Linked DNA regions of Homo sapiens: all the other regions are linked to region 3. The links come from fine-mapping of genetic effects on plasma protein levels. A gene starts in region 3. Each other region holds a variant in brackets. All regions are shown on one strand. Distances are between the middles of the regions.

Region 1 (8,176 bases), 12 kb after region 3:
GTGCCAGGCTTGGGGCAAAATGCTGTAAGTCCCCTAGCTCATCTAATCCCCCAGCAGCCCTGTGAGCCGGGTACCAAGGCTCAGAGAGGCAAAATAACTTGCCCCAGGCCCCACAAGTGGGAGCCAGAGTTGGAACCTAAGTATGTGTGGTTTTGGTTCTGAAACCCCTGTGTGTGTACAGACCTACTGGAAGGTTTTCTCAGAAGATCTGGGAGAACTTGTTTGCTAATGAGTCCTTTCCCCAGACGTAGCTCAGTGGCCACCCAGGTCTCACACACACGCTGTTTCCCGTCTGCACTTCCTGAGCAGCTCACACGCTTCACCAGCGCTCTTACTTCATTCTGTCTTGGAGATGATGCCCTCACACCCGTCCCCCTTTCCCAAGCCCATGAGTCCCTCAAGGCAGGAACTGTCCTCTTTCTGTCTGGGAGCACAGTGGTTGGCACACAGGCGGGAAACAGTAAATATCTCTGGAATGATAAGGAGTAGGGCTATTTTATCAGGGTCTCTCATGTGCCAAGGCTTATGCCAGCTATTCACTGAAGGGGCATTCCTACAGTACTGTGTGTCGCACCTAGGCTCTGAGCCCACCGGAGGGTGCAGAGACGCACACTGGCCGCCCCAGCCCTCAAGGAGTTCATGTCCAGTGGAGGAAGTGGCAATAACACCCATATCTTGAGGGCTTCATTGAAAGAGTGTTCCCTGAGCACCTAGGCCATGCCTAGCACTGTGTGCTAGAGGGTACGGACATGTCATCCCATGGAACCTGAAGTTACGATTACTGAGCTCATCATTGCTGTAGTTCAGGCCACTCAGAGAAGTTAAGTAACTTACTCAAAGACACACAGCCAGCAAGTTAAGCCCTGACCTGACAGTGATGACAGCACAAGTGGACAACGACTTTGTTGCATGAAATCTCAGCGTGTATAGAATACTTAAACTTTATTAATATATAGTAACTATACTAATGATAATAACAGAGTAGCTAGGACCTATGGAAGGTCTCTTTTATGTTGTGATCATTACGCCTATCATTCCGAGTAGTCTCTACCACCCTGGAAAATAAGTACCATTATATCCCAGCTTGCAAATGTGGAAACTGAGGCAAGAAGAAGTGAAATCACTTGGCCCAGGTTCACAGCTAAGAAAGGGCAGAGTTTGGGGGGTCAATCCAGGCCTGTCTTCTTGCAATCCCTGTGCCGGGATCCAGGGTGCCCCAGCAGGCTGGTGGAGGGCTGGGGAGAGGTGCATATCCTGGGCTGGAGCCCTGGGCAGGGCCCAGCTACTGTGAGGCAGCTGCCTCAGGCAGCGGGATCTGGGCAGCTCTGCAGAGAAGGCTGTGCCGCTTTGCGGGTCACCGATGGGGGTGCGGTTTTTCCTCCGCAGTGGCAGAGGACGACAGCAGCTGTGAGGTGAACGGCCGCCTGTATCGGGAAGGGGAGACCTTCCAGCCCCACTGCAGCATCCGCTGCCGCTGCGAGGACGGCGGCTTCACCTGCGTGCCGCTGTGCAGCGAGGATGTGCGGCTGCCCAGCTGGGACTGCCCCCACCCCAGGAGGGTCGAGGTCCTGGGCAAGTGCTGCCCTGAGTGGGTGTGCGGCCAAGGAGGGGGACTGGGGACCCAGCCCCTTCCAGCCCAAGGTGAGCGCAGCGGTGGTCCAGGTCAGGGCAGGACTGCCTGGGGGCGCCAAGGGCCACCTAGGGGGTGGGGTGGGGGGCGGCTTCCTGGGTACCAGGACCCAGGGACACATCAGAAGCTGGGAGGGGCGGAGGCTGAGGAGGGAGATAAGAAAGAGGAGTGGAGGGCCGGGCGCTGTGGTTCACCCTTGTAATCCCAGTACGTTGGGAGGCCAAGACGGGCGGATCACCTGAGGTTAGGAATTCGAAACCAGCCTGGCTGACATAGGAAAACCCCGTCTCTACTAAAAATTCAAAAATTAGCCTAGCATGGTGGCGGGCATCTGTAGTCCCAGCTACTTGGGAGGCTGAGGCAGGAGAATCGCTTGAACCCGGGAGGCAGAGGTTGCAGTGAGCCCAGATCACACCACTGCACTCCAGCCTGGCCGACAAGCACGAAACTTCATCTCAAAAAGAGGAAAAAAGAAAGAGGAGTGGAGGGTCACCAGGCCTCCCTCTTTAAAACCAATAAACAAAAAGCCACTGCCTTTGAGATGTGTAATTTAAAACCATAAATAATTAAAAATAAAAACTGGGTGACAGAGCCGGGAGAGGAAAGGTGGGTTAGGGTATGTGAACCAAATTCTCACATTTCAGAGATATAATAGAGCTAAGCTCTTAGAATATATAATATTATCGTATTTATAATATATTGATACATATTAATATATTTAGTAATTTATTATTATTTGGGCTTACTAAAAAAGGAACTCAAAACTGAACGAGGCAAAGTGGCTGCTCTGGAATGTGGGCCGGGGGTGGGCTAGAGATGGAGAAAAGACAGTTACCTCCCACCGTCCCACTATAAATCTTCAATTTTAGAGATTTTTGTTGTTGCTGTGTTGCTTTTTGAAAATTATCACATGAATGTGACTTTCTAAAAAAGGCAACTGAAAAGAGGAGGATTGATTTCATAAATGCTGCTGCCACCCACAAGAGGTAGTCACGTGTTATGGGTCAGGTGCACGGCATCTGCAACAGCCCCGCCATCCCCTTTTTGCTGTGTGACTCTGAGAAAGTTGCTTAACTTCTCTGTGTCTCAGTTTCTCCAGCTGTAAAATGGGGACAATAAGAGCATCCACTTCATAGCGTTGTGAGAACTACTTGAGTTTGTTCAAGTTAAGCAGCTGTAGCAGTGCCTGGCACATGGTACTATATCAGAGGTAGCCGTTATTATCCCTGTGATGGAATATGATATATCCATTTAAATACATAGGAAAACACCAGTGAGTTCACCTTATGGATAAAAGCAGGATAAGAAGGTGTATTTCCAACTCGATCTCAACTAAGTGTGTCCCTATGCACGTATACAGGTATATCTACACATACACATGCATACACAGCACACACATGTGGGTAGAAATCAGGGTTTCTCAACGTCAGCACTAGTGACAATTGGGGCAAGTAATTATTTGTTGGGGGGGTTTTCCTGTGCACTGCAGGGTGCTTAGCAGCATTCCTGACTTCTACTCACTAGATACCAGTAGCATCCCCCCAGTTGTGATCACCAAAACTGTCTCCAGATATTGCCAAACCTTTCCTGGGAGGCAAAATTACCCTAGTTGAGGACTTCTAGTGTAAGACTAGAAGGAAGGACACCAAAATACTCACAGAGGGAGACTTGGAGCAGAGAAAAAGCTAGACCATGGTGAACCTGCCATCTTGTTCCTGGCACAAGAATCCTGGAATCTTTAGCATCCTTGCCACTGGGCCAAAGCACCACTCCACACAGGCTGGGCACCCCCTGCCTGTAAAATGCTGTTTATCCAAAGAGACGAGAAAACCATGGTTCACTGAGGGACCATCGTGACCAACACACTCTGGTTGCCAAATAACTAATATTTATGGAAATCTTACAAGTACCAGGTACTGTGCTAGGCACTTCATGCCCATTATTTTATTCAATGCCATCCACTGTTAAGAAATTTACATAACAAGAAACTGAGATGCAGAGAGGCTGAGCCATTTGACCAAGATTGCCGTGGCCGCTGGCAGGTGGGTTGATTGAGCTGCTGAGCCCTGGCTGCTCAGTGCTAACTCTTGTTCTTTCCCCCCTAGGACCCCAGTTTTCTGGCCTTGTCTCTTCCCTGCCCCCTGGTGTCCCCTGCCCAGAATGGAGCACGGCCTGGGGACCCTGCTCGACCACCTGTGGGCTGGGCATGGCCACCCGGGTGTCCAACCAGAACCGCTTCTGCCGACTGGAGACCCAGCGCCGCCTGTGCCTGTCCAGGCCCTGCCCACCCTCCAGGGGTCGCAGTCCACAAAACAGTGCCTTCTAGAGCCGGGCTGGGAATGGGGACACGGTGTCCACCATCCCCAGCTGGTGGCCCTGTGCCTGGGCCCTGGGCTGATGGAAGATGGTCCGTGCCCAGGCCCTTGGCTGCAGGCAACACTTTAGCTTGGGTCCACCATGCAGAACACCAATATTAACACGCTGCCTGGTCTGTCTGGATCCCGAGGTATGGCAGAGGTGCAAGACCTAGTCC[C/T]CTTTCCTCTAACTCACTGCCTAGGAGGCTGGCCAAGGTGTCCAGGGTCCTCTAGCCCACTCCCTGCCTACACACACAGCCTATATCAAACATGCACACGGGCGAGCTTTCTCTCCGACTTCCCCTGGGCAAGAGATGGGACAAGCAGTCCCTTAATATTGAGGCTGCAGCAGGTGCTGGGCTGGACTGGCCATTTTTCTGGGGGTAGGATGAAGAGAAGGCACACAGAGATTCTGGATCTCCTGCTGCCTTTTCTGGAGTTTGTAAAATTGTTCCTGAATACAAGCCTATGCGTGATCTTGTGTGTCAGGCCTGTGTTTTCTGAGAAAGCCCTCCCATTATCCGGGGCAGAATTCAGGGGCAGAGTTCTCTGTGAACCTCACAAGGTGAAATCACATGGTCTTAAAGAAAGCCAGAAGACAGGCCTTCAAGTGATCCAAGAAACCCAATTCATATTAATAATAATTAACTTTTTTATTTATTTATTTTTTTGAGATGGAGTTTTGCTCTTGTTGCCCAGGCTGGAGCTGGAGTACAATAGCACGATCTCGACTCACTGCAGCCTCCCGGGTTCAAGTGATTCTCCTGCCTCAAGACTCCTGAGTAGCTGGGATTATAGGCGCATGCCACCATGCTCGGCTTTTTTTTTTTTTTTAAATATATTTTTAGTAGAGATGGGGTTTAGCCATGATGGTCAGGCTGGTCTCGAACTCCTGACCTCAAGTGATCCGCCCGCCGCCTCGGCCTCCCAAAGTGCTGGGATTACAGGCGTGAGCTACTGCGCCCAGCCAATAATTAACATTGCTTGAGCGCCTGCTATGTGCTAGGCACTAGCACTTTATACAGACCAGTGCTTCCCAGCGTTTTTGACCAGAGAAGAGCAGGGAGAATGAAGGCTGCCTCCCAGGGACTGGGGAGCATAGCCTGAAATCAACTAACCCAAGGGTGAAATTGTTCGAAGTCTCATGTTTTATTGTTTACAAACAAAACAAAACAAAAAACAAAAACAAAAAAAAACACCCAACACCAAATACATATATTTTACATTTTCCTCCATGGTCTACCTGTGTTTGTTTAAAAAGTAAAACTGTATTTCCATTAGGATCCAAGCAGGAAATTAGAAAACACTCTTGGTATTTAAACAGGGATTTCTTCTTATTAAACTAATTTTATTAAGGTATAATTTACCCATAGTTAAATATACAGATTTTAAGCATATGGTTTAACGAGTCTTCATAAACGTACACGCTCATGTAACCAACTCCTCAATCAAGGTATAAAACATTTTCATCATCTCAGGGAGTTCCCTCTGGCTCTGTTCCAGTTATCCCCCTGCTCCCCAAGGCAACCACTGCTCTGATTTCTATCACCATAGATGAGCTTTCGTGTTCTTGAACTTCTCATTAATACAACCATACAGCAGGTACTCTATAATGAATGACGTCTTTCACTCAACATAATAAAACAAAAGGAATTTAATGAGAGGACTTAGTCACCCATCTGAGAGGCCAAGTAGGGGACCGTGTGATGCAAGAGGAGAAATTCAACACCAGACCAGCCCTCGGGGCGGAGGGGCAGAGGGAGGGCAGAGCCCAGAGCTGGCACCAGCAGGCAGAGGAAGAGGACCTGGCAAGGCTGTCTGCTGGGAGCTGCAGCCGCTAAGGAGACACAGCCTCGCAGACCTAACAAAAAGTAGATGGAGGTGGGGAGACCTGCCCTGGCTTCTGCCTGCTGCTATCCCCCAGTTTCCAGTTATGCCTCCCATGAGTCGAACCTGCTGGGAAGGTGGAAGAGAGGGGAGCCTGGGAGATGCAGGACAAGGAAGGGCAGGAGGGTTCTGAGAATGAGGGCAATTCCCAGACACAGTGTTTGTAAATTACCCACCCCAGGTACGGTTGCTGGTCACAGAGGCCCCTGCTGCCCAGCCCCCAACACTTATCTCAGGTATCACCCCCTCCAGAAACCTTAGTTTGAGAATCACATGCTGAGTTTGAGCCATGTAACCTTCACAGAGCCCCTGCATGGCAAATATAACTAACTCCAGCTCAGGGATAAGGAAACACCCGGGAAAGCGAGCTGTCTAAAAGCTGGTCTGCAGCTGGGGTGGGATGCTAGTCCAACCTGAGTTTATCTGACTCTTGAGAATGGCTGTTGGTCTCTCACAGATTGAGAATTTCCATGGGTCTGGTTCTGCAAGGATAAACCCTAAACACATTTCCAGGCAAAATTCTGATAACATCCCCCAAAACAGGGAGAACACGGACAAGAATGAGGAATGTGCACCGAGGGACTCCCATACATAAGGCTCTCTCTGCCACGCACTCTGTCCACACCACTGCACGTCATCCTTGGGACATTCCTAAAGGAAAGTGCCACTAATACTCCCTGTTTAGAGATGAGTAAACTGAGACCCAGAGTGATTAACAAGTTACCCTGGAGTCGTGGAGCTGGGACTCAGGCCCATGACCTCACAGCTGAGCCGCCACTGTGCAGTGGTAGAGTGAGTGGGCTCAGCCAACCTGCCCAGGTGTGCATCCTGGCTCTGCTATTTCCTAGTGCTGTCATCTTAGGCAAAGTACTTAACCTCCTTGTGCCTCAGTTTCCCCTTCTTTAAAATGGGGATAATGGCAATACTCAACACAGAGGATTGTTGAAAGTGTTACGTGATTTACAAAAAAACTTAGGGCCGGGCGCGGTGGCTCACACCTGTAATCCCAGCACTTTGGGAGGCCAAGACGGGCAGATCACTTGAGGTCAGGAGTTCGAGACCAGCCTGGCCAACACATCAAAACCCCGTCTCTACTAAAAATACAAAAATTAACTGGGTGTGATAGCACACACCTGTAATCCCAGCTACTCAGGAGGCTGAGGCACGAGAATTGCTTGAACCGGGGAGACAGAGGTTGTAGTGAGCCGAGATCGCACCACTGCACTCCAGCCTGGTGGACAGAGCAAGACTCTGTCTCATTAAATAAATAAATAAATAAATAAATAAATATTGGAGGCCGAAAGATTGAGGGTCATGATCAACTCAGTATACCACTGGAAGCTATATGAGTAAGCAGCAGACTATTTCTCATAAATGCAGAATGTTGGCAAACTGACAAACTGTTTCTGCCATCCAGAAGGAATGCTGAGGGCAGTCACGCTCCAAGCATAGTGTTTCTTGTGATTAGGCCTAATTGAAACCTGTTAGTAACAATATGAATCTGTGATCAATCAACCAGCTAACCAGTCATTACCTCCTCCTCCCTGCTCATTCTACCCAATAAATAGGAAGGGCTGTGGAAGCTCAGGGACTGCCTTTGCTCACTAGAAGCAGGGAGTTCTCTTCTTCTTCCCCTGGCCCTTTCCTTTACAACAGTTTCTTTTGTCTTAAGTTTTCATTTCTACATTCGTCCCCTCGTTCAGTCCTGTAATGAAGTCTCAGGCAGTAACAGTAGTAACTGCTGTAATGACGGCCTCAAGTAGTAACAGTAATAACTGTCATAGTGACAGTCTCAAGTAGTAATTGTGGTAGTCTGCAACAAAATAAAATAAAATAAAATAAATTTTAGCAACCGTTATCCTAACTCTTGGCGCTTTAGTTTTTTGATCTGTAAAATGGGAATAAATAGTAGTGCCCACCCCACAGGATGGCTGTATAAAGTGAGTACCCGGCTGTGTGCAGTGGCGAGCACGCCTGTAATCCCAGCACTTTGGGAGGCCGAGGCGGGCGGATCACCTGAAGTCGGGAGTTCGAGACCAGCCTGGCCAACAAGGTGAAACCCCATCTCTACTAAAAATACAAAAATTAGCCAGGCGTGGTGGCACGCACCTGTAATCCCAGCTACTTGGAAGGCTGAGGCATGAGAATCACTTGAACCCAGGAGGTGGAGGTTGCAGTGAGCCAAGATCATGCCACTGCACTCCAGTCTGGGCAACAGAGCAAGACTCTGCCAAAAAAAAAAAAAATAGTGAGTATCCACTCCGCAGGGGTATTGTGAGTATTAGGAAGGTAATTCCTCCATGTT
Region 2 (8,176 bases), 13 kb before region 3:
TTCATCTCCAACTGGGATGTTTATTCATCCTCTTTAGATACCATCTACAGAGGAGACCCAGAGGAAGAAGAGGGGCTCACAGGCTGGCCAAAAGCAGGTGATCTTCCTCTGGGGACCTGATGCTCTCACAAAGCCTGGGGCCTTCTGTCCTGCCCTGGGGTGGAGACAGAAGACTCCTTCCCAGACGAGTGACCTTTAGGGTTTGTTATGAATAGAGATTCCTTCTGGGGAACGTGATGGCTGATGCTGGGAACCCGGGTCCCCAGATTTAACCCCTAGGAATGTGGAGAGGAATCTCCAGACCTCCACCCAGGAGGCCAGCTCTCCCAGCCACCCAGGCCAGCCAGAAGAGGGTGGTTCTAAGCAGCTCTTCCAGTTATTGGACCACTGGGAGGTGGACTGGAACCTTCCATGTCCAGGCTGGGAGGCAGCTCCTCAGAGTAAAAATAACTCTAGGCTTCAAAATCCTGGGGTCTGCCTCTTCCTCCCCAGCTATGTGACATTCACTGGACAGGTGCCTCATGTGGGGGGACTTTGGTTTTCACATCAATCTAATGGGACTAAATATTATACCAACCTCTCAGCAGGGCTGGGACTAGGGTGAAGCCAGCCAGGTGCTCAAGGCATAACATTTAGGGAGGTGCTTGTTCTGAGGCGCCAACCCTGCACTTGCTCAGGCCCCGGGGTGAGGGCCTCGGTAGATTTGCACCCTGGTCACCTTGCTGCCTCAACCTGGCCCCAGCCCTGCCTCCCAGGGTTGTCGTGGGAAGGAAATGAGATATTGTATACAAAGCATGTTAGCACAGCATGTAGCATGCCCTTAGTGCTCACTTGTGGGGAAAATTCTGTTATTGTTCTTTTTTTTTTTTTTTTTTTTTTTTTTTTTGAGAGAGAGTCTCGCTGTGTCACCCAGGCTGGAGTGCAGTAGCACGATCTTGGCTCACTGCAACTTCTGCCTTCCGGATTCAAGTGATTCCCCTGCCTCAGCCTCCTGAGTAGCTGGATTGCAGGTGTGCACCATCATGCCTGGCTAATTTTTTTTTTTTTTTTGAGACGGAGTCTCGCTCTGTCGCCCAGGCTGGACTGCAGTGGTGTGATCTCGGCTCACTGCAAACTCCGCCTCCCGGGTTCACGCCATTCTCCTGCCTCAGCCTCCTGAGTAGCTGGGACTACAGGTGCCCACCACCACGCCTGGCTAATTTTTTTGTATTTTTAGTAGAGACAGGGTTTCACCGTGTTAGCCAGGATGGTCTCGATCTCCTGACCCCGTGATCCGCCCGCCTCGGCCTCCTAAAGTGCTGGGATTACAGGCGTGAGCCACCGCACCTGGCCAATTTTTGTATTTTTAGTAGAGACGGGGTTTCGCCATGTTGGCCAGGCTGATCTAGAACTCCTAATTTCAAGTAATCCACCTGCCTAGGCCTCCCAAAGTGCTGGGCTAGGATTACAGGCGTGAACCACCGCACCCAGCCTGTTCCTATTATTTTTATTGACTGCCTTTCTGAGGTTGGCTGGGCCTGTTTCCCAGCAGTGGCCCTGCCTTGGACCTCTTGCCATGGCCTTCGTCTCTCCCTCCACTTGTACATATTATACCCTTTTTATTATTTATCCCCTTGTAGCATGGTTTGATTCCCATTATTTACTGGTTCCTTGTCCCATGTCTCCTCCTCTGTGTCGACAGCCTGGAAACAATGATTGCTAATATTTACCAAGTGCTCACCATGTGCCAAGCCCTGGGCTAAGCATTTACATGCTGGATTTCATCTCATCTTTACAATGATCCTATGAGGTAGGGACTATGATTATACCCATTTTTCAAATGAGGAAATGGAGGCACTTAAAAATTGAGTAACTTGCCCAAGGATGCATTGTTAGAAAAGGATGGAGCTGAGGGTAGAATCAAGATGGCTTAATCCCTAAAACCCAAGGGATGGAACCCAGAACACTGCCTCTTCCACTCTTCACCAGCTTCTGCCCTGCAGGGTACACGCAGATGGCTCCAAGCAGGGGCCCCATTGCTCACTGGGGGAAACTGGCCTCCCTGAGCTAAGTCAGGTCCTGGGCAGAGGGACAGATGCTCTCTGTGCATCTCTAGGCCACAGCAGGGCGTTTCCAAGTCCTTCCCAGACCAGACGGCGGCTTCTGCTGTAGGCTATAGTAATAACAACAGCGTTGAGCACTCACACTGTACCAGAGCAGGGGTGGCGCCGCGCTGCACACCTGCCGCCCAGGGTCTCCACAGTCCTCACGCTGCCCTTGCATTGATTATTGTCTTTATGTGACCAGTGTGGTAGCTCAGGTGTCAAGACCTCAAGGCACCCAGCCAGGGTCGCATCTCACGTCTATGGCAGATCCAAGATCTGAACTTGGACTTGTCTGAATCCTGGATAAGCTGGGGGGTGAAGCTGGCTGCTGAGGATCCTGTGTGCCCCTCAGCCCTGTTCCCACCACCTCTGTGCCTCCTCCCTGCTGGCAGCCACTGTGGCCACAATGGGGTTAACCCCAGAGGAAGGCATTGAAGGCGCTGGGGCTGGGGTGGGAAGGAAGGCATATTTCGGGGCTCCAAGGACTTGAAGCCTAGCTGCTCCATGCCCAGGCTCTGGGACCCCCCAATACATGCACACATTGTTTAAAATGAAGTGGAACTCCAGGCAGGCAAGTTTTGATTTAGGGGAGACAGCTCCTCCATGGTAATGATACTGAGCCTTGTTATTTGAGCAAATAGGTTTTCTCCCAGCCTCTCACTCCTTTCTTTGTAATTCATCTTCCATCCTGGCCACATGCAGGCCCTGCTTGGAACTCTCTGGGGACTCCTACCCCACAGGATAGTCTAAAACCCTGCCCCGGTATTCAAGGCTGTTTGCAGATGTTCCTCAACCCCACCACCTGTTGCTCCCAAAATTCACACACCCCAGACCTGCACACCACAGTTGTTGCTATTCCACACACAGGTCGCTGGGAGCAGCGCACGGCCCAGCCCCGCCTTTCTGCAAGTGGATCCCTCTGCCTGGAAAGTCCTCCCTCCCCTCCTCTGGATCCTCCTGGGTCAGGCTGGGTGCTCCTCTGAACTCCCAGGCTGAGGGTTGCTGTGTAATTTGATACTACATTGACATTGCAGGAAGATCATGTATGGCTGAGTAGCTAAAAATGCAGGCTTTGAACTTGGATGTGGGTTCAGCCTCAGCTGTATCTCCCGCCAGCTGTGGGACATTGGGCTGGCGTCTCTGAGCCTCAGTTTGCTTCTCTGAACATAGAATGATACGCCCTACTCCATTAAGGTGCTGAGGGTGAAGGAAACCACGGGCTCAGTGTGGGCAGCTTGGCCAGGGCTCCAAGCGCATCGGGTGTTCATGTAGTCCTTCTAGTGCCAGGCGGTCATTAGCAACTTGGTGCCAGTCTCTGAGCTGGTCTCCAGGACGGAGCAGTGGAGGGACCATGTAGCCCCTGCTCCCACAAACACAGACATTGGACAGCCAATTAGTTACCCCAGTTCGTTACCATGGAGACTATAATTAGGGATTATAGTCACCCTGCCCAAGCGCACAGGCCTCACCTCCCATCCTTGCCTTAGCTTTGAAGCTCCCTGGAGCAGGATCTAAACTGGATTTGTCTCTGTAACCTCAGTTCCTCATTATTCATGGTCGGAATGCTCAGCAAACGTTTAAGTGGAAGAGATTTCCATAACAAACACTTGGGAGTTCAGAGGAGCACGCGGTCCAACCTGAACAGAGCAGGAGGATCTCAGAGGAGGGAGGCCACTAGGTAGGATGCGGCGGCACTAAGGGTAGCACTTAGTTTGTGACAAGGACTGTTCCAAGCACACCACTTGGATCATCTATTAAATTCTCACTTATTTATTTATTTATTTTAAAATTGTGTTTATTTATTTATTTATTTATTTATTTATTTGTTTGTTTTGAGATGGAGTCTCGCTTTCCAGGCTGGAGTACAGTGGCACAATCTTGGTTCACTGCAGCCTCTTCCTCCCAGGTTCAAGCGATTTTCCTGCCTCAGCCTCCCAAGTAGCTGGGATTACAGGCATGTGCCACCACGCCCGGCTAATTTTTGTATTAAGAGATGAGGTTTCGCCATGTTCACCAGGCTGATCTCGAACTCCTGACCTCAAGTGATCTGCCCGCCTTGGCCTCCCAAAGTGCTAGGATTACAGGCTTGAGCCACTGCGCCCAGCCAGTGATCACTTATTTAGATCACTTACTAAAATCATTTAATTATGTCAACACCTCTGTGAAGTATGTACTGTTATCACCATTCCCATTTCATAGATGGGGAAACTGAGGCACAGAAAAGCTAAGTAAACTGCTCAGAGTTACAGAGCCTGCGAGGGCCACAGCCAGAATTCAAACCCAGGCCATCTGCCTCCACAGTCCACTTTCTATGTCCCTCTCCCGAGATGATGTCCCTTTCCCAGGGGTGTCTGGAAAGGGTCTGGCCCCTGGTCCCAGCTCAAGCAGCTGTCCAGGGAAGCCTGAAGACCTGGCCCATCTCCACTGCCCACCGGGCTTCTCTGCGCTCCACTTCCCAGGTGGACTGTGGAGGCAAATAAGGCCCCAGCTGCAGCCTCTGAAGACTCCTGCCAAGCTGGCACTTTGAGGCCTGGGGGTGTCCCAGGGGATCCCAGCCCAGCAGCTGGGCTGACCTCAGGGCCAGTGTTTCCGTAAACACCCGGAGAGCCAGCCCCACGTGGTTGATCTGTGGGTTGCTGGCCAAGAGGGGCTGAGGTTTGGCTGACCTCGTGCGGTTTCTTTCAACAAGGCTACTTCCACCCCCTCCGCCTGGCTGGGCTTCCAGTAATGAAGTGTTTTCTCTGGGGCTAGGGGAGCTGATGGGGCTGGTGG[C/G]GTGGGGCACTGGGGTCTTCCTGTCCCACGTGCCCTCCACCCTGGGCTTCTGGAAGCTGGTCTAGATGCCCCTAGCTGCCGCCTGGGCAGCCCATATGCCCACGCCGGTCCCTGATAGTGAACTGGCCCGTAAGGGGACCAGGTCTCGGGATCTGAGCATGGAGCAGGGGCTGCGCCCAGGAGATAGGGTGTGGCTAGACTTTCCCCTGCTGGTCCTTTCCGGGGATCTGAGGGGAAACTTCTCCTGGGGACACACCCGGGTAGCTCAGAGATGGAAGAAAAGGTCTCCATTACAGCTGCCACCTCTTCCCCACCCAAAGAGAGTGTCCGCAGGGGGCCGTGGGGCAGGAGTGAGTACTGAAGGAATACTAACCACGATCACTGCTACCATCTCCTGAATGTCACTGCCCCAGCCCTTTAATTCTCACAACAAACCTTGGAAACTGAGGCTTAGAGAGAGGAAGTGGCTGGCCCAAGGTCACATAGTGAGTAAATGAGCAGAGCTTCTCCCCCTTTCCCTTGAATCACCTCTATCTTCCTGTCCAGATGCCAGGCAGCAGGAACTAGCAGGTGCTTTTGGGTCATCTTTTAAGAGGCAATATAGCACAATGAGTGAGAGCAGGGACTCAAGGGCCAGCCACCTGGGTTCAAATCCCAGCTCTGCTTCCTACTGGCTATGTGACCTTGGGCAAGTCACTCAACTTCTTGGTTCCTCAGTCTCCCCACCTGTATAATGAGGATAATAATGATGCCTCCTTTAGGGGGTTTCTGTGAGGATTGCATATACACGTGACACATAATAAGCCCTGTGCCATGCTAGTTATCCCAGCCTCTCACTCTTCCCATTGAAAAGGTGAAGACACAGACCCAGAGATGGAGGCAAATTCTGCAGGGGTCATGCCCGGGGCAGAGCATGGTTCAGCTATGTCTCCTATGGTGCTGCCAAGGAGCCACCATGGGCTTGAGCTGAGAGGAGCCACCTGGCACCGGACACGTGACCTCCTCGAGGGAAGGGAGGCTCTGCAGAGAGCAGGGGATGGTGGAGGAGCCTGGCTTTATCTTCCATCCTTCAGGAGCGGGGAAGGGCAGTGTCAGAGCCAGGAGAGGAGAGAAGCGAATGAACGTGCTGTGTGAGCTCCAGTCAGTCCCTACTGACTCTGGGCCTGTCACTCCTGCTGAGGGACTCGGGTGTTTGGACTTTTAGACTTGGAGGGGCTCCTCGGTGGGGCCTTGGGGGCTGCTCTGGGTGAGGGCTCTCACCATTTGCTTCATCCCAAACCACTGTCCTTGGGCCTGTTTTAAATATTAGAGTGTAGCATGGGGTTTTGCTGCTCTAACAAAGGGTCAGCCATCTTGAGAAGGAGGCTCTGTGATGAGCAGGGAATGGGGCTCCCCTGCCCCCCCGAGACCCTGGGGCCCAAGCTGATGACTGGCCAGTGACTCACTCCCTTCTCAGCATGTCCTGTCATCCCATGACTGGGAGCCCCTCGGGGGTGGCTCCTAACCAAGGTCCCCCTGACCAAGGCCTCCCCCCACCCTCCCCCTAACACACATAGAGACTGGGAACAATTAACTCCCTCCTAAGGCCAGACCAGATGTTCACGTGGGCATTGGTTTTGTTGACCACATGTGACTCAGGAGCTCCCTCAGAGCTGGAAGAGTCCCAAGAGGCTAAAAGGGCAACCTGTCACGTCACAGCTGGGAAACTGAGTCCCAGAGAAGCCAGGTGAGTTGCCTAACATCCCTCAGGGGTAGAAGGGAGGAAGGAACCTGGAGTTCCCATGCCTGACCCAGAGGCTTTCTACCTCTCCAAATAGTTCTCGGATGTGCCCAAGGCCTCAGTCCCCATTCCTACCTCCAGTTGCAAATGTCCTCCCCAACTACACAGAGCCTCTCAGCTTCATCCCACCCCACCTCCAACTGGCTCTCATGGTTTCATCCAGGCTCAGCTACTTGCAGCTCCCCAAATAGCTCCTGCTGTCAGGCCACCTCCAGGCCTTTGTACTCTCCTGCTGCTCTGTTTTATTTTCCTCTTCACCTGGACAACTCCTAATCTTGCTCCAAGACTCATCTCAGGTGTCACCTTCTCCAGGAAGCCTTTCAAAACCACCTCCTCCACCTCCCAGGCTGGGTTAGGTCCTCCATCTCTTCACCCTCAGTACCTAGTATCTCCCACTTACTGTGCTGGAATCATCTCTTTGCTTGTCTCTATATTGCCCTCTAGTCTGTGAGCTCATTGTGGACAGAGACCTTAGTTTTTATTCTTAATAGTAGGGAATGACCTATTACATTCGGTGTTTGCTGAATGAATGCATAAGTGGATGGATGGATGAATGAATGAATGGTTGGATGGAAGAATAGATACATGGATGGATGGATTGATGGATGGATGGAATGAGTGACCAAATGGTAGATGAATGGACAAATGGACCGACAAACATGGAAGGATGGATGGATGGACAGATGGATTGATGGACAGGTGGATTGATGGACAGGTGGGTCGATGGGCAGGTGGATGAATAAATCAGGCAGATAATGGCATCTGTAGGGACTCAGACAGTGAGGGCTAAGTCCCTGGAGCCTGGATATCCTGACTGATGAAGGTGCTCTTGGATGGGAAGGGAATAACCTAACCTGTTGTCTTCCTACTCCAAGAGATATTTGGTCCAGAACAAAGCCACCCCTGCCCTGGTGCCTGCTCCCTTCTGACCAACAGGTTCCAACTCAGTGGGGTCTCCTGAACTCTGGTAACTCATCTGACACCAGAGCCTATAGGAATCACCCTGTCTCTGACATTCAGGGATTCTGCATTCCTGAGGCCCTCCCTCCCTGCCTCTCTTCAGGTCAGAGCTGCCGCCCCATAAATGCTTTCAAGCATAGAAACATACACCCCTAGAGCCAGGAAGTTGTAAAAATGATGGGATTCACCCCTCTACCATTTTTGCAGATGAAGAAACTGAGGCTGAGCAAGGCCAAGAAACTTGCTTAAGGACACACAGCAATAGAGCTGGGATAAGAGCTTGGGTCTTTCAATTCGTTTATTCGTTCATACAGCAAGTATGTATCTAGCGCCTAAAGTGCCAGGCTCAGTGCCTATTCCCGGGCATGCTAGGCCTGTGCATAAGCTTTCATGTTAATTTAAAAGCTATTTCCATCCTCCATATGACCTCCTCCAGCTCCCCAGCAGGCTGGTCTATGCCTCACTAGCTGCATGCCTGGCATGATCCCTATGACAACACCCTCTCCCAGCAAATGAGGACCACTTCATTGTCAGGAAGCCTGGCTGGGACTGGTGTGTGCTGCCGTGTGCAGAGGAGGCA
Region 3 (8,176 bases):
TGGACAGTTTGAAGGGAGGGCTGAACCGCAGCAAACCAATCAGCAAAGTGGCAGCTCCCACCGCTCCTGCCACACCCACTCATGCTGAACTGTGTGTGCAAGCTCCATCCCTCACACTTCATCACCAAACACCCTTGATGATGACGCCTGCTTCCTGATCTGGCCAGGCCCCAGGGCCCCTACTGCCCACACTTTCCCATCCTCAGTTATCAGACAGAAAAAGTTCCAAGAAAAATCCATGCTCTGACTCAGAGGGCCCTAGGTGGGCATAGCACTCTGCCTCGTTCTTGCCACCTCCCTGCCCCGTATGGCCCTGTCTTCTTCACCATACGTGGCACCCATGGCCCACCTCACCTCCTCATTGTCAAGGTCTCCTTGCTCTGCTATGGACATGGCTGGGACCAGCGTGTCTCCCTCCAACTCTCTTCCTCACACCTCCTCATTTCTCCCGTCTTCCTTCTTGCCTCAGAGATAGAAGTGGCTTAAAACTGTTCCTTTCAGGAACAACTAATCAGTGGCCACAGAGGTCAGAATAGCGGGTACCTGGAGGACAGAGGGTAGAGTCTTGGAAGGGGCATAAGGAAACTTCTGGAAGTGTAGCTTGACCTGGGTGATTATCACATGGGTATATACAGTCATGTATATACATATGTCAAGAGTCAAAATTAGCCAAACATGCTGCCTCATGCCACCAGCTACTCAGAAGGTTGAAGAGGGAGGATCCCTTGAACCCAGGAGGCTGAGGCTGCAGTGAGCCATGTTCATGCCATTGCACTCTAGCCTGGGAGACAGAGTGAGACTCTGTCTCAAAAAAAAGAAAGAAAGAAAGGAAAGAAAGAAAGAAAGAAAGAAAGAAAGAAAGAAAGAAAGAAAGAAAGAAAGAAAGAAAGAAAGAAAGAGTTGTCAAGCTCTACACTTCATATTAGTGCACTTTAAGCACTTTTCTGTATATACATTACCTCTCAACTTAAAAAACATTATCACAGAGAGCTCTATGGACAGTAGCAGAAATAAACAGCATCAAAAACTGAAACTTGGGTGTTGGAGTCATATGAACCCGCACTGAAAACCTGGCTCTGTTTTCTAGCTGTGTAGCTTTAGGCAAGTTACTTAACCTTTCTGAACCTCACTTTTTTCAATTGAGATGTGGATCATGAGGATTAGAAATGCTGCTTTTTATAAACAGTGCTTAGCACAAGGGCTGGATCTTGCTGGGTGCTATACACAATTGCTTTTATTTTTATTAATATCAGTGGCCTAGGGAGGACAGGAAAGTCGGAGTGACCTTTCCTGGATGCAGGCAATAACGGGTGGGGGGCCTACAGAATTTAAAGATAAAATAAAACTGATGAGAAGTCAGTCTGCTTTTATGATCACTGTGCAATGGCAGATCTAAATAATTTCAGTGGTAAAATACTTTGTCCTGAAAATACCCTTTATTGATCTAAGTTCTAACAATTGGTGCAGTAACTGTTGGGGTTTAATAATGTATATGTAAAGCTTCAAATCAGCACATTTTTATTCTTATCCTTTAATAAACATATTCTACATGGAAGTCAACTTGACTTGGAGAACTTTAAGAATCCTATAGTTGCCCCCAGAGCATGTGGTCTCAGGAACACACATCAGTTGAGAGTAAGCTCCTCACAACTCTGGAATCTTCCAAGCTTGCTTTGAATGCATTCCTGTCTCCACCGTCCAGCATTCATATTTCTGCATTTATTTTTATTATTATTTTGTGTGTGTGACAGAGTCTCTCTCTGTCGCCCAGGCTGGAGTGCAGCGGCAAGATGTCGGTTCACTGCCACCTCCACCTCCCGGGTTCAAGCAATTCTCCTGCCTCAGCCTCCTGAGTACTTGGGACTATAGGTGTGCACCCACCACGTCCGGCTAATTTTTGTATTTTTTTTTTTAGTAGGGACGGGTTTCACCATGTTGGCCAGGCTGGCCTTGAACTCCTGATCTCAGGTGGTTCTCCCACTTTGGCCTCCCAAATTACAGACGTGAGCCACCGGCCCAGCTGTATTTCTGTGTTTAAACAGTAGAGTGAAATCAACTATGAACGCAGAATGATGGGAAAGATGACGATAAGGGTATTTCAATTTTGTCATTTTACGAAACTACTTGGAGTTTTGATTTGTATTTACAGTTTTTAAAAGAGTAAAACAGTGTGAACTGTGAATGGTAATGATTTTGTTTGGTAAGTGCAAATTTTAATTCATACATGAAAAATATTTGTTTTGTTTCATGATTATTACTGAAAATAATTTTGTACTATGAAGGAAGAGGGGTGTTAAAAATGATCCACTGTGGATGTAAATTATTCTAGGCATGCTTCTGACTAAAACATTAGCATTTCCACAAGAATCCCAAAAAATAAAACAAAATTTAAAAGATCCCTTCTGTTTCTTTTCCTCCAAGTTTCCAGACCCCCATCTCCACCCTGGCCACCTCTTCCTGCCATAAATAATCAAATCCCACACTTTCATCTTCACCTTCCGTTTCCATTGCCTCTTCCGATGGGACAGCACCCGTGGGGAATCTCCTCCATGCTCACAATCCCCGTCTTGCCACTATATCAAGTCACACTTCTTCCTCACCAATCGCCCATTCTGGAACCTCTGCTATCCAGCTAGATCACTTTGAGGTTTGGACAACTACTGGTGGAGGTAATGGGGGCCCCAGACAGCCCTTGACATCACCTCTTTTATCTTTGCCAAATTCTACAAACAAAGCCCATGTCTTTCTGTCCCCCGCCCCCATGGCTGGCACATAGTAGATGTCCCCAAATCTTGGTGATGTGAACTTGTGTGTCTCACCCTTCACAGACATCACCATTTCCCGTTGCACAGAAGGCTCCACTCATACCAGGCGCTTTGGCTCCCAGAATAAGCAGGCTATCATGCTATGTCCGACATCTAGGCGTTGGTACGTACTGTTCCCTTGGCCTGGAACATTCTGCCCTCTCTCACCCTCTCTTTTCTTGGCTTTCTGAAATGGCACCTCCATCAGAAAGTGTCCCTCACTCTTGGTCTGAGCAAGGGACCTTGCCTGGTATTCCTGAACTTCCACCTGTTTTCCCTCTGTTTTCTCCCTCTCTGGGCCTTGTCCTCAGGTCAGTGTTGTGCCTCCAGCTCCTGCAGAGGCGAACTCAGAGGCGGCCGAATGAAACCAAATGGATTTGGCTTGACCCCATCATCTAGCGGTGCCCAGCAAGCGCTGGCACATAGTAGGTCCAGCCTGCCCGGACTCGCCCACCACGGGCCCCCTTCCAGAGCCGGGAGGCAGGCCAAGGGAGGCCCCTTATTGCCAAGAGCAAACAGGCCGCCCAGGGAAGTTTTGCTCTGGGTCACACCCACCTCTGGGTGGCTGCCAATCTGCCTGCCAGAAACCGCAGGCTGGGCCGCGGCTACCCAGAGTCAGGGCCACGGAGCTTAGGAGACCTTGGGTCAGCTCTGCAAAGGGGTTGTTTACTGAATGCTTCTGGTATCTGCAGCCCCGCTGGGGTTCGGACAGGGGGTCTGGAATAGGGCTTCACAACTACAGCAGGGCTAGGACCCTCTTGGGCTGGAAGGAGCTGGAGAGGCCTCTGCAAGCTGTCACAGGCTCTTGGTGCTGGCACTGGCTCAGGCTTTCACACACACACACGCGCACACACACACACACACACACACGGACAGGCACCCCCTTGGTGGCCTTCACAGTTTCACCTTCAGGTAAATGGGCTCATCCTTTGAGCCATGAGGATGGGAAGCGAAGCAAGGAATGAAAAAGCTAGTGTGTTTGTGTGTGTGTGTGTGTGTGTGTGTGTGTGTGAGCGCGCGCGCGCGCGCGCGTGTGTACTCGTGCGTGTGCCTGTGTGTGCCTGGGAGTGACCTCACAGCTGCCGGAACATAAAGACTCACAGGTCCGCCTCCCAGGCTCAAAGCTGGCTCTGCAGGGGACATGAGAGGCACACCGAAGACCCACCTCCTGGCCTTCTCCCTCCTCTGCCTCCTCTCAAAGGTAAGGAGGCCCGGGCCCTGGAATGCACTGCTGACTATTTGGGTGTGGAGGGGGTGGGGATGTAAAATCGCAGCCAAGGACCCCCTTGGCAGAATTCCTCCAGGGCCCCACATTGGGCACAGTCTGGCCCCCATGCCTAAGCAGGGCTTCTCTCCCTGGAACTCAGAGCTGCCTCCGGCCAGCCCTGCTGTGTGACCTCAGATATGTGTCTTGCCTTCTCTGGGCCTCAGCATCTTCCCAGGTGAAGGGTATACAGTTTGTGAGGCCTCTGTGAAGACCATTCATGATCATTCATCAAACTTACCAGGCAAATTGAAGAGGACTTTAATGTATCCTCATTATGAATGGGGGCACTCAAGACATGACATGCTTGGCCTAACTCTGAGCCAGCATTTGGATGGATGCCTAGCTGATTGGAAGGTTCATTCTGCAAGGGCATCAATGCTGTTGGACTCTTAGGCAGTGAGTGACCCGCCCGCCCTAGCTAGAGGGGAACAGGAGACACCTCTGTGGAGTAATGGCCTTATCCCTGAATGCTGCATGGGACATTCACCAAAGAGCCTGTGGGACATCTACCTTGTCTAACATGCACAACAATCCCATAAGGAATTTTCAGTTAAGTGAGGCTCAGAAAGGGTAAGCAACTTGCAACCCCAGTTTTCAGTCAAGTGAGGCTCAGAAAGGGTAAGCAACTTGCCCAAAGCCACACAGCAAAGAAAGGTCAGAGCAATAGAGGAGAGCCATGGTGGAGCCCAGAATGACATGGATGTAGGGGGAGAAGCACTCCAGTCTGTGCCTCCCCAAGCCCAAACTGGACCAAGGCCACAGCTGCTAAGCCTTGTCATCCCCTCGGCAAATGCTGAGTTCCCAGAGCCATGGAATCGGCCCCACCACAAGCCACGATCTCACTGTATTTTCACGCTCCTTTGAGGAGCACGGGCAGGAGCTTCTCTCCCTCAGGCTCCAAGTCTTCGTGCCTGGGAAGCCTGAGAACCACGCTGGCATCCTGTCCTGCTGTTTGTTCTTCCAAAGGGGATGGGTAGGGCATGATGCCAGTGTGGGTGGCTTGGGTAGTTGGAATAGGGGACTTGGGGCTCTAGGAGGGAGAAGGGGCCCAGGATTATACGAGAACAAAGTAAAGCTGTCCTAGACTTGCCATTAGGGTGAGACTTACGGGACCATTCTTCCCTGGTCCCAGGAAGCAGGGACTGCACAGAAACACAGGGACTTAGTCACCACAACATGGAAAGCCACAGCAACCCTCAGAGGGAGAACTGTAAGTCTTCCAGGCTGGCCGTTGGCTCCGGGGCTCCTGGCTGTGGACCGGGGCAGGAGGCAGACACCTGGACACAAGCAAAATCACATTGATCAAGGACTGGCCAGAACCTCATTTAATCTCCATCATCACTCAGAAACAGGTTGTCTCTACTCCAGTTTACAGAGGAGAAAACTGAGCTTCACCTCCACCTTCCAAAGCCGTTTGTCCACATGTTCAGTCACGTAGCAAGTCACTGGCAGAACTTGAATCTCAACTCTTGCCCAAAAAACTCCATGCCCAGTACTCCTGCCCCAGATATCATGAGCCTTGCCCCCCACCACCAGATATCACAGCAAGGCCCTGGGGAAACTGAGGCACAATGGGACAACTTGAGTTTGGGCCTTGGATGTCAACTTGAACTTGGATGTCAATCCTGATTCTGTCTCTTACTGGCTGTGTTACTACACGGTTTGAGCTCCAGTTTTCTCATCTTTAAAATGGGCATAATGATGGCACCTCACATTGGAGGGGTAAATGAGACAACAGCACTTGGCACATGACATACATATGGTATCACATGAGATAATTGTACACTAGAATAGTTGATATCATTAATAGCCTCTCCTGGGTATCGGGGCCTACAGAGTCCTGCCCCCTGACAAGCATGGCCAGTAGAGGGGTCCACAGTGGGAGCCAAGGTGCACAGCTGCTGGTCTATTTCCTGGCACTCCTGTTTTCAGGTGGGAGGGACCTGAGAGTCATTTCTGACAGTCCTCCCTCCATTGCCCACAAGCCAAGGGAGCTGAACCTCTGACTTAGAAGGGAACCCAAAAGCCTAGACCGTTTCTATGTGAATCACCTGTGGATTTATGAAAATGCAGATTCGGGCTGGGCGTGGTGGCTCATGCCTGTAATCCCAGCACTTTGGGAGGCCGAGGTGGGTGGATCATGAGGTCAGGAGTTTGAGACCAGCCTGGCCAGCATGGTGAAACCCCGTCTCTACTAAAAATACAAAAAATTAGCTGGGCATGGTGGCATGCACCTGTAATCCTAGCTACTTGGGAGGCTGAGGCCTCCCAAGAATTGCTTGAACCTGGGAGGCGAAGGTTGCAGTGAGTCGAGATCGTGCCACTGCACTCCAGCCTAGGTGACAGAGCAAGACTCCATCTCAAAAAAGAAAAAAAAAAAAAAGAAAGAAAAAGAAAAGAAAATGCAGATTCGGATTTATTATATAAAAATTCAGCTTCGGATTTATAGAGGGGCTCCAGATGCTGCCTCTCTGACAAGCTCCTAGATGACGCTGCTGCTGCTAGTTCAGACCACACCTTGAGGGGCGAGGCTAGGCCATCGTCTCTAGAATCTGAACAGCCTGCAGCGATGGGATCCACTCCCTTGTGAGGCAGCCAGACACCTAGCTCCGTGTGTCCATCTGCTACTCAGTGCTGTCTCAGTGGGGGCTGTGATCGCCTCCTACTTTGTGGCCCCCACCAGAGGCTGGTCAGCCAGTTTGCAATGGCTCCTAGTGGCCGGCGTGGGAGTTGCCGGGAACTGAAAGCAGGTTTGCAGGATTGTGGGTAGTGGGGGCACTGGGCGGGGCAGAGGGTGAGGCAGAGCAAAGGGGTCATTGCCTGCTTTGGGGCTGCACAGGAGATATGAGGTCATTAATTCCATCATTATAAACTGCAAGCCTCCATTCCTCTAGATGAAACCCTCATCCCCTAAGGATCCTACTAAACTCAAACTTGGCCCCCCAAAGATGGGGCCACTGGAAGCATCTTGAATTATACTTCCTTCTTGGTCCCCACCTTCAAATGGGCAGACAGGGAGCTCACGGCACCTGCTGTATGCTTTGGTTGTTTCTCTGATGTGGGTGGCGAGGGTCAGGCAGGCCACATGGGCTGATACCCTGATCCTGTCTCTGGGGAGTGGGTCCCTGGCTTACGGACACAGTCTACCCCCATCCCGTGTCCCTGAGTCCTCACTTGGGAAGCAGGACCGGGGACGCTCCCAGCCCTGAATCGAACACACTGACGTGTGCTAAGTTCCTGTCCCTCTCTGGAGCTCAGTTTCCCCATCCGTACCTGGCAGGGGGAGGAGGTTAGACTGGGGCAGAGGTGCTGAAAACCTAGCTGAGCTTCAGAAGCCACTGGACAGCTTATTAAAAATAAAGATTCCAGGTCCCTGACTCTGGGACTTCTGATTTTGTAAGCCCCAGAGTGGGTTGGGGGTCTGTATTTTCCCAAGTCTCCTGGCTGATGTGATGTACCTCCAGAGCTGGGACACATGCTGAATGGATCGAAAGGCCAAAAACATCCATGATATGGTTCAATTTATTCAGTCCTAAGATAAGTATCCGTATGCTGGAAAATGTACCAGACCCTACCATTTTCATCCTTGACTTGTTGCTTTTGCCTTTCTGTAAGCTCCCAGAGGGCTGGGGCTGAGCCCTCTGCCACCATTAACAACAAGGATCATCAAAGCTAAGTGCAGTGAGCGCCTACTGCATGCCAGGCCCTGTGCTGAGGGTTTGCTGTGCAGCATTTCATGTACTCCTCAGAGCAATCCTCTGAGTTAGATACTTTGAGGAAACTGAGGCTCAGAATGCTTAAGTAACTTCCTCAAGGTCACTCAGCTAATAAGGGGCAGAATTAGAACTGGAAGTCTAGCCAGGTGCAGTGGCTCATGCCTATAATCCCAGCACTTTGGGAGGCCGAGGCGGGCGGATTGCCTGAGCTCAGGATTTCAAGACCAGCCTGGGTAACATGGTGAAACCCCATCTCTATTAAAAATACAAAAATTGCCAGGCATGGTGGTGGGCGCCTGTAGTCCCAGCTACTCGGGAGGCTGAGGCACGAGAGTCGCTTGAACCCAGGAGGTGGAGGTTGAAGTGAGGCTGGGATCGCGCCACTGCAC

Which allele goes with the higher level. Positions count from the first base shown, and alleles are read on the strand shown. Strength reflects both the effect of a copy and how common the allele is.
For the plasma level of the protein whose gene starts at base 3,924 in region 3, allele T in region 1 goes with a lower level than allele C (moderate association).
For the plasma level of the protein whose gene starts at base 3,924 in region 3, allele C in region 2 goes with a lower level than allele G (moderate association).

Evidence for each region. PIP is the chance, under the fine-mapping model, that this variant and not a neighbour inherited with it causes the effect. Protein levels are from antibody-based Olink assays in UK Biobank. Linkage for the fine-mapping came from a reference panel and not from the study's own genotypes, which makes the PIPs less certain.
Region 1: its variant is fine-mapped to the plasma level of the CCN5 protein (UK Biobank, PIP 0.97).
Region 2: its variant is fine-mapped to the plasma level of the CCN5 protein (UK Biobank, PIP above 0.99).

What each region holds. Positions count from the first base shown.
Region 1 is chr20:44,723,352-44,731,527 of GRCh38, forward strand. CCN5 (cellular communication network factor 5) reads left to right here. Exons shown (of 4, transcript NM_003881.4): 3 at 1,387-1,641; 4 at 3,736-4,460. The coding sequence ends at 3,956. All of the region lies in intron 3 of KCNK15-AS1 (KCNK15 and WISP2 antisense RNA 1), which reads right to left. Among named protein-coding and RNA genes, the nearest start is that of CCN5, 12 kb to the left of the region's middle. RefSeq lists an enhancer at 3,358-3,883. The variant C/T (reference allele first, on the strand shown) is at 4,164.
Region 2 is chr20:44,698,310-44,706,485 of GRCh38, forward strand. No RefSeq gene overlaps it. Among named protein-coding and RNA genes, the nearest start is that of CCN5, 13 kb to the right of the region's middle. RefSeq lists an enhancer at 4,488-4,567. The variant C/G (reference allele first, on the strand shown) is at 4,857.
Region 3 is chr20:44,711,446-44,719,621 of GRCh38, forward strand. It overlaps CCN5 (cellular communication network factor 5), which reads left to right and starts at 3,924. Exons shown (of 4, transcript NM_003881.4): 1 at 3,924-4,005. The coding sequence starts at 3,946. KCNK15-AS1 (KCNK15 and WISP2 antisense RNA 1) reads right to left here. Exons shown (of 5, transcript NR_132377.1): 4 at 5,180-5,348; 5 at 417-543. LOC124904911 (a long non-coding RNA gene) reads right to left here and starts at 3,329. Exons shown (of 2, transcript XR_007067598.1): 1 at 2,496-3,329. RefSeq lists a silencer at 3,223-3,517.